Homo sapiens: one gene and its partner. The protein of the gene in region 1 interacts with the protein of each later gene in a pairwise test. Each region holds a gene or a part of one and is shown on either strand. Other genes may lie near its edges.

What was found. The genes of interacting proteins can lie anywhere in the genome.
Region 2: the proteins of BCAR3 (region 1) and NEDD9 interact in binary tests that used the Homo sapiens proteins (3 or more experiments, as listed by UniProt).

The regions. Positions count from the first base shown.
Region 1 is NC_000001.11:93,590,987-93,594,735, reverse strand, and holds part of BCAR3 (breast cancer anti-estrogen resistance protein 3), read left to right. Parts: exon of another isoform or gene 1-2,321; coding exon of another isoform or gene 2,322-2,342; coding exon 2,343-2,471; exon of another isoform or gene 2,472-2,768; intron 2,769-3,568; exon of another isoform or gene 3,569-3,749. UniProt on the Homo sapiens protein: Acts as an adapter protein downstream of several growth factor receptors to promote cell proliferation, migration, and redistribution of actin fibers.
Region 2 is NC_000006.12:11,190,994-11,194,742, reverse strand, and holds part of NEDD9 (enhancer of filamentation 1), read left to right. Parts: intron 1-1,050; coding exon 1,051-1,152; intron 1,153-2,296; coding exon 2,297-2,398; intron 2,399-3,537; coding exon 3,538-3,749. UniProt on the Homo sapiens protein: Scaffolding protein which plays a central coordinating role for tyrosine-kinase-based signaling related to cell adhesion. As a focal adhesion protein, plays a role in embryonic fibroblast migration.

The sequences.
Region 1 (3,749 bases):
TCAGACCAAGAAGTGGGCCCAGGGTGCAGCACAAGGGATTTAGGCTAAGCCTGCAGACTGCCTGTCAGGGTGACTCAATGGGGGTCAGGTCACAATATGGGTTAGGATTTAGTTCAGCTGCCAGTGACGGGAACACCCACAAATCACAGGCTTCCATAAGGTAGATCACCTAGAAGACCTGGAGGCTGGCGGTCCAGGGCTGGTGTGTTGGCCCCACAGTCATCAGGGACCCAGCCTCAATCAGACCTTCCACCCAGCCAATTCCTTGGTGTGGCTCCCCACTCACCGTCCAGAATGGTGTTGAGTCTCCAGCCATCACATCTCAGCTCCTTGGTCAGAACTGAGTCCTGTGGCCACATCTCCCTGGAAGAGACAGAGATTGAGGAATGTGGTCTTTTGGCTGAATGGCAGCATGCCCAGCGAAAACAGGGCTTCAGATGACTTGAGGGCGAAAGGGAGAATCTCCATAACTAAGCAAAGTCAGCATCTTTTCTCATCCTAGGGTATTTGTTTACTGAATACCCAGTGCCTGATGTTTTCAGGCATTGCTCAAGGGCAGTGGGGAAAAAGTAGATGGATTTCTGTTTTCATGAAACTTACAGTCTAGTGGGAGGCAAGTCAGACAATAAACGAACAATAAAGCGTGGCCGAGTTGACAAACTGCATTCCACACTCAAGCTGTCTTCAGATGAAGCCGTACAATATTAATGATGGGAGCGGACGGTGTCAAACATCACCGTCTAAAGCCTGCAGGCACCCTGGACAGCCAGCGTCCGCATCTCTTTGATGCAAATTCCATCCTTCAGACACTCCCAAGTGAGTGTCTGCCCAGTGAGAAGGAGGGAGAAGTAAACAAATAGTAAGCCAGAGCCCCATCTAAAAATCAGCCCCTGAGTTACTCTTCAGCTAGCGCTCCTTATGGGCCAATGTGCAAAGAAGCACTAGAGGATGAGAATCTAGCCCTAAAATTCCAGGGCTTTGTTGTTGTTGTTGTTGTTGTTGTTGTTTGGTGGAAAAGGATTTGGAGCTATTTCTTTGCTGACGTGCAAAGTAGTGTAATAGGCCGGGCATGGTGGCTCACGCCTGTAATCCCAGCACTTTGAGAGGCCAAGGTGGGTGGATCGCTTGAGCCCAGGAGTTTGAGACCAGCCTGGGCAACATGGCAAAACCCTATCTCTAAAAAAAAAATTACAAAAATTAGCCAGGCATGGTGGCACGTGCCTGTTGTAGTCCTAGCTACCAGGGAGGCTGAGATGGGAGGATCGCTTGAGCCCAGGAGGTTGCTTGAGCCCAGGAGGCCAAGGCTACAGTGAGCTGAGATTGCACCACTGTGCTCTAGCACAGTGAGACCCTGTCTCAAAAAAAATAAAATAAATAAACATTTTTAAAAAGTAGTGTGATAAGTAATAATTTTGTGGCTCCCATGGGGGTTTGAAGGACAAGCTGGGAAACTTGGGAGAACCACAGGGACACAGCCTTTTTCTGTTCATGGGACTTTCAGCAAGCGGTTCCTGGTCAGCATGCCTGGTCTTGCTGGGAACTGGGCAGGTTTCCAGGTTCAGTTCACATGTTGTAAGCAGGCATGGTTCTAAATTAAACCTGGAGCCACCGCTGTCCACCCAGCACTCACTGCCATGGCCACTGTGCAACGCCGCAGACCACTGATTCTCAAACATCTGAGGTGAAGGACCAGGGTTGTCTTTTTAAATTTGTTTCACTTTCCTATCTGTCATAAAAATGAAATATTAGAAATGTGAAATAAAGACAGACTTCTGTTATTAGATTCAAGAGACATAAAATTGCTCTGTCCATTTGCCCTAAAAGTTTCTAAAGACTGACTCAATTCCTGAACATGAGTTTACCAACAGCAAAGAAGTTAGGGCCATCGCTACCAGCCCAAGGACTGTGCTTTGGGCCTCACTGCCCAGAGGCCCAGGATCTAAGGCCAGAAGGGAACAGCTGCCCTCCCCACGCTATGTCAGGACAGTCCTGAAGGAGAATGAGGAAGCTCTCCGCTGGGAAGAGAGCAGGCTGGGCTGCTGTGTCTTGCTGTCTGTACATCTCTCTGGCCCTTCCTGCCCAGCTGCTTGAGTAGACTGGTAAAAGGAACCTCTTGGTGGACTCTCCTACCATAGTCCCCATGTGCAGGTGAAAATTTTATTACATGGTTGCGGCCGGAGAAACGAAAGGTCACAGCTCTTTGTAATCATTATCCAGGCTCCCCTACCTGAATGCAGGCTGTAGCATAACTGGTTGGATTAGTGAAGCAGGCGGTCACCTCCAGCTGGCATGGCCTGGTGTGGCCTGGGCAGGGTGAGCTCATGGTTGACTCTGTGTTGCAGTTCTCCAAGGAGAGGCACATCATGGACAGGACCCCCGAGAAACTGAAGAAGGAGCTGGAGGAGGAGCTGCTCCTGAGCAGCGAGGACCTGCGCAGCCATGCCTGGTACCACGGCCGCATCCCCCGACAGGTACCTGGTCTTGTCCCTTCCAGAGCATACACGGCTGCTCTCAGGCAATGTACAGATTGATGACCCGCAGGGTCCCACTCCGAGGCCACATGGGCGGAAGCACCTGTGTAACCAAAAACAAATACTCTAAAAATGACTTCATTTAGACCCTTCTCTAAGAAGACCTTGGGAAGAGCTGAGGTCAAGAACCCAAAGCACACATCCACATGTTCAGGAAGTGAAGGGACAGCCAGCGCTCCTGGGGTCTGCAAGCACAGCGTTGTGGGAGGCAGCAGCCACAGAGTCAGTAACCGGAAGAACTAGGAGGGCGGGCTGTGGCCCAGGTAATTGAACTCTTGGCCAGCTGCCAGCAGCCTCAGACCATTTGCAGCCCCTCCTTCTCAAGGCAGTGGCTTAGCTTCGGGAGGAGAGAGGGCAGGTGGCCCAGATCAACAAGGCTGCCTCTGCCCCATTGAGCTGGCAGTTATTCACACTCTCCATCACTTCCCTACTGGATCCTGTGACCCAGAGGTGGGAAAAAAGGGGAATTAAACCCATGACCACAGACTCATGGCCCAGAATATACTTTGTGATCGTCATTTGGGTGATTGCCATAAATAATGTTTTTTCATTTAATACTGTAAAAATTGAAAAATAGAGTAAGTCTGCAGAATTGAGGCATAGAATTTCCCTTGGGTTTTTATTGTAAACCTGATCTGGCCAATCATTAACCAAGGACAACATGACAGGAAGTGTGTGGACAGGGGCTGGGGGGAAGGGCATCATGTCGTAAGTTTTTTTTCTTTTTTTTGAGACAGAGTCTTACTCTATCACCCAGGCTGGAGTGCAATAGCACAATCTCAGCTCACTGCAACCTCTACCTCCTGGGTTCAAGCGATTCTCCTGCCTCAGCCTCTCTGGTAGCTGGGATTACAGGTGTCCACCACCATGCCCTGCTAACTTTTATATTTTTAGTAGAGACGGGGTTTCACCATGTTGGCCAGGCTGGTCTCGAACTCCTGCCCTCAAGTGATCCACCCACCTCAGCCTCCCAAAGTGCTGGGATTACAGGCATGAGTCACTGTGCCCAGGCTTTTTTTTTTTTTTTTTTTTTTTTAATGTAGTAGATTTCTTGGCACAATCAAATAAATAATTATTATTCTGACTTTGTTTTTTTAAGTTTAAAATTGATTGTAGAAAACATAGATAGCAAAAAGAAGGAAATTAAACTCTTATCCATAATTCTCCTCATAATTCTCCTGGGGATAACCACGATGAATACTTTTGTGTACATACATC
Region 2 (3,749 bases), on another chromosome or scaffold:
GTGATGAACGCTATTTGACTTCTGATATCCCTTGACGTAGGTACTGTTGGGGATGTTTTCTTTCCTGGTGGAAATGGGAAAATGATTAGAGACCAGAGGTCAGGAGACCTGAATTCTGTTCCTGGTGCCTCCCTGACTCAGTATTTTGTTTGTTTGATACGTTAGAATGAAAGCTCCCAGAGGTTTCTAAGGACAGCACAGTTTGAGCATTGGCTTTGTAAAAGTACTCTGGTGACCTGTGGAATTACAGTTATAATCATCATAATAATGTCCAATGAAGAGGCATACTGAGGAAGGCATGAGAGGAATTTTAAGTGGCTAAACTCTATTTGCATTATTCATTTTACAAATTGTTTCAGAGCCTTAAAGCAAATTTCAGTATGCGGTACTTTAGATGCAAAATGCTCCTCTAGGACTTTCATAAGTTACACACAAGTATCCCTTAAAGTATATTTCAGAAATATGCTTGCAGTGCATCAACTCTATCTGATGAACTTTGAGATGATCACAATTAAGGGTGATAGAGATATTTTAGGGATTTTTTTTCTCATTGGGATTCAAGAGGGATTTAAAAGTTTACTAACCTGGGCCAGATGCAGTGGCTCACACCTGTAATCCCTGCACTTTTGGGGGCTGAGGTGGGTGGATCACCTGAGGTCAGGAGTTTGAGACCAGCCAACATGATGAAACCCTGTCTCTACTAAAAATACAAAAAATTAGCTGGGCATGGTGGCGTGCACCTGTAATCTCAACTACTCAGGAGGCTGAGGCAGGAAAATCACTTGAACCCGGGAGGCAGAGGTTGCTGTAAGCTGAGATTGTGCCACTGTACTCCAGCCTGGGGAGCAAGAGCAAAACTCCATTTCAAAAAAAAAAAAAAAAGTTTACTAACGTGGTGTCTACTTGTCTCCTTCCTGTTATGTCTTCTTTCTTTGGTTTCTTTCTATCTTTTTATGAGGGAGAGTTGAGGGATGAGTGCTTAGTTAGGAGGCAAGGAGATTCAAGGACTCAGGCTTGGAAATTTACACCTCTGTGCCTTCTCTCCCACAGGTGATAACCCCCGTGAGGACAGGCCATGGCTACGTATACGAGTACCCATCCAGATACCAAAAGGACGTCTATGATATCCCTCCTTCTCATACCACTCAAGGGGTGCGTACCAGAACATGGTCACAAGAGGAGAAGCGCTTCTAAGGGTAGCATTCCTTCAGGGCTGTAGAGAAAAGGGAGTTCACAAATTATGCATTAATATATGTCATATGAAGCTTTGTTTAGGTTGTCTACCCAGTAGCCACTTTAGCCAATGCTATTTAAATTATGTTTTCTGGATTTGCTTTATCAGGAAATCCTAGTATTTCACCCAAGAGAGCTTATGTTCTTCTACAATTTTGCTTCAGAAAGTAGATTTTTCTTTTTTCTTTTTTTTTTTTTTAAGACAGAATCTCACTTTGTTGCCCAGGCTGGAGTGCAGTGGCTCTATCTCAGCTCACTGCAACCTCCACCTCCCAGGCTCAAGCAACTCTCCTGCCCCTGCCTCAGCTTCCCAAGTAGCTGGGACTACAGGCACACACACCACCATACCTGACTAATTTTTGTATTTTGTAGGGACAGGCTTTTGCCATGGTGGCCAGGCTGGTTTTGAACTCCTAACTGCAAGTGGTCTGCCCACCTCGGCCTTCCAAAGTGCTGGGATTACAGGTGTGAGCCACGGCCCCCAGCTGGAAAGTAGAAAATTTAAACTACACTTTAAAGTACAGACAGCGTAGATATTTCACATAAGATCTTTTTTTTTTTTTTTTTTTTTTTTTTTGAGACAGAGTCTTGTTCTGTCACCAGGCTGGGAGTGCAGTGGCACGATCTCAGCTCACTGCAACCTCTGCCTCCCGGGTTCAGGCGATTCTCCTGTCTCAGCCTCCCAAGTAGCTGGGACTACAGGTGTGCACCACCACACCCAGCTAATTTTTGTATTTTTAGTAGAGATGGGGTTTTACCATGTTGGCCAGGATGGTCTCGATTTCTTGACCTTGTGATCTGCCCACCTCAGCCTCCCAAAGTGCTGGGATTACAGGCGTGAGCCACCGTGCCTGGCCAAAATCATTTTTATATTAAATGTAAGTTAAAAACCATAAAATGTATTAAAAAAAAAGGCAATAAATCTGTTATAACATGGAGCACTGCCAAAGATCAAGCTTGTACATAACCTGGTAAATAAATCCATAATTAAGTGCTTAGGAGCATAAAAAATGACCAAGTATAAGACATTTCCATTCTGGGTAACTCACGGGTTTCTCTTCAGGTATACGACATCCCTCCCTCATCAGCAAAAGGCCCTGTGTTTTCAGTTCCAGTGGGAGAGATAAAACCTCAAGGGGTGTATGACATCCCGCCTACAAAAGGGGTGAGTGAGTGACTACAAAGCAGCAAAAAGGAGTGTGTGTGTGTGTCTGTGTGTCGGGGGGTGCAGGGTTGGGAGGGTGGGTAAGTAGTTCACTCGAATAAAACAAGAAAGGCAAACCCAAAAGGGGAAAATGTAGTCTTGGTGAGAGTAAAGGAAGGAAGCAAAAAAGGAAAGGCACTAATTAAAGATAGCTCTAGGGATTTCATATTGAGAAGCCCCAACTAAAAAACACTAGGTGGCCAATAAGGATAACCCTTTGGCAGGGAAGATAATTAGTTCAGTTTGGCAAGTACTAATATATATTTGTAGAGGGTTTGTTTTGTTTTGTTACATTTTGTTTGAGACAGGGTCTCGCTCTGTCACCCAGGCTGGAGTGCAGTGGCGCAACCACAGCTCATTGCAGTCTTTACTTCCCAGGCTCAAGCAATCCTCCCACCTCAGGCTCCCAAGTAGCTGGGACCACAGGTGCACGCCACCATGACTGGATAAATTTTATTTTTTGTAGAGACGGTGTCTCCCTATGTTGCCCAGGCTTGTTTTGAACATATGGGCTTAAATGATCCTACTACCTTGGCCTCCCAAAGTGCTGAGATTACAGGCTGAGCCGCGCCTGGCCTGTAGAGGGTTTGACAGTTTCCTCAGTGTGTATGTTTGAGTGAACTCGTTTGACTCACTCTGTTACCCTATGGGGTATGCCTGCACAGGAGGCACAGTAATCCCTACTTTACAGACAAGGGGACTGTGTTTCAGACGCCTATGCAGCTCATTCAGCATCACACAGCTGGTGTGATAACCAAAAAGACCGGGGGAGAACTCTGGTCTTACTCTGCCTCTCGGCACAGATCAGCAGAGAAAGGATACCCAGGAGGTGGTCAGAAACACAGGACTGGAAACACAGGGTGAGCAATTTAGCCAGGAGGGTTGTACATACGAGTCTGCACCAAGAACGTGGGGTTGGACACACTTGGCAAAGGACAAGGGAAGTGACAGCAGAATAACGGGGAACCTTGGAAGTGCCTAACATTGGGGCGGGGGAGGGCGACCGAAAAAGTGCCAGCAAATAGGACTGAGCACATGGGACCACAGGTTCCCATGAGCCAACTCAATAAATAGCATTTCGCTTTCTACTTGCTTTGCAGGTATATGCCATTCCGCCCTCTGCTTGCCGGGATGAAGCAGGGCTTAGGGAAAAAGACTATGACTTCCCCCCTCCCATGAGACAAGCTGGAAGGCCGGACCTCAGACCGGAGGGGGTTTATGACATTCCTCCAACCTGCACCAAGCCAGCAGGGAAGGACCTTCATGTAAAATACAACTGTGACATTCCAGGAGCTGCAGAACCGGTGGCTCG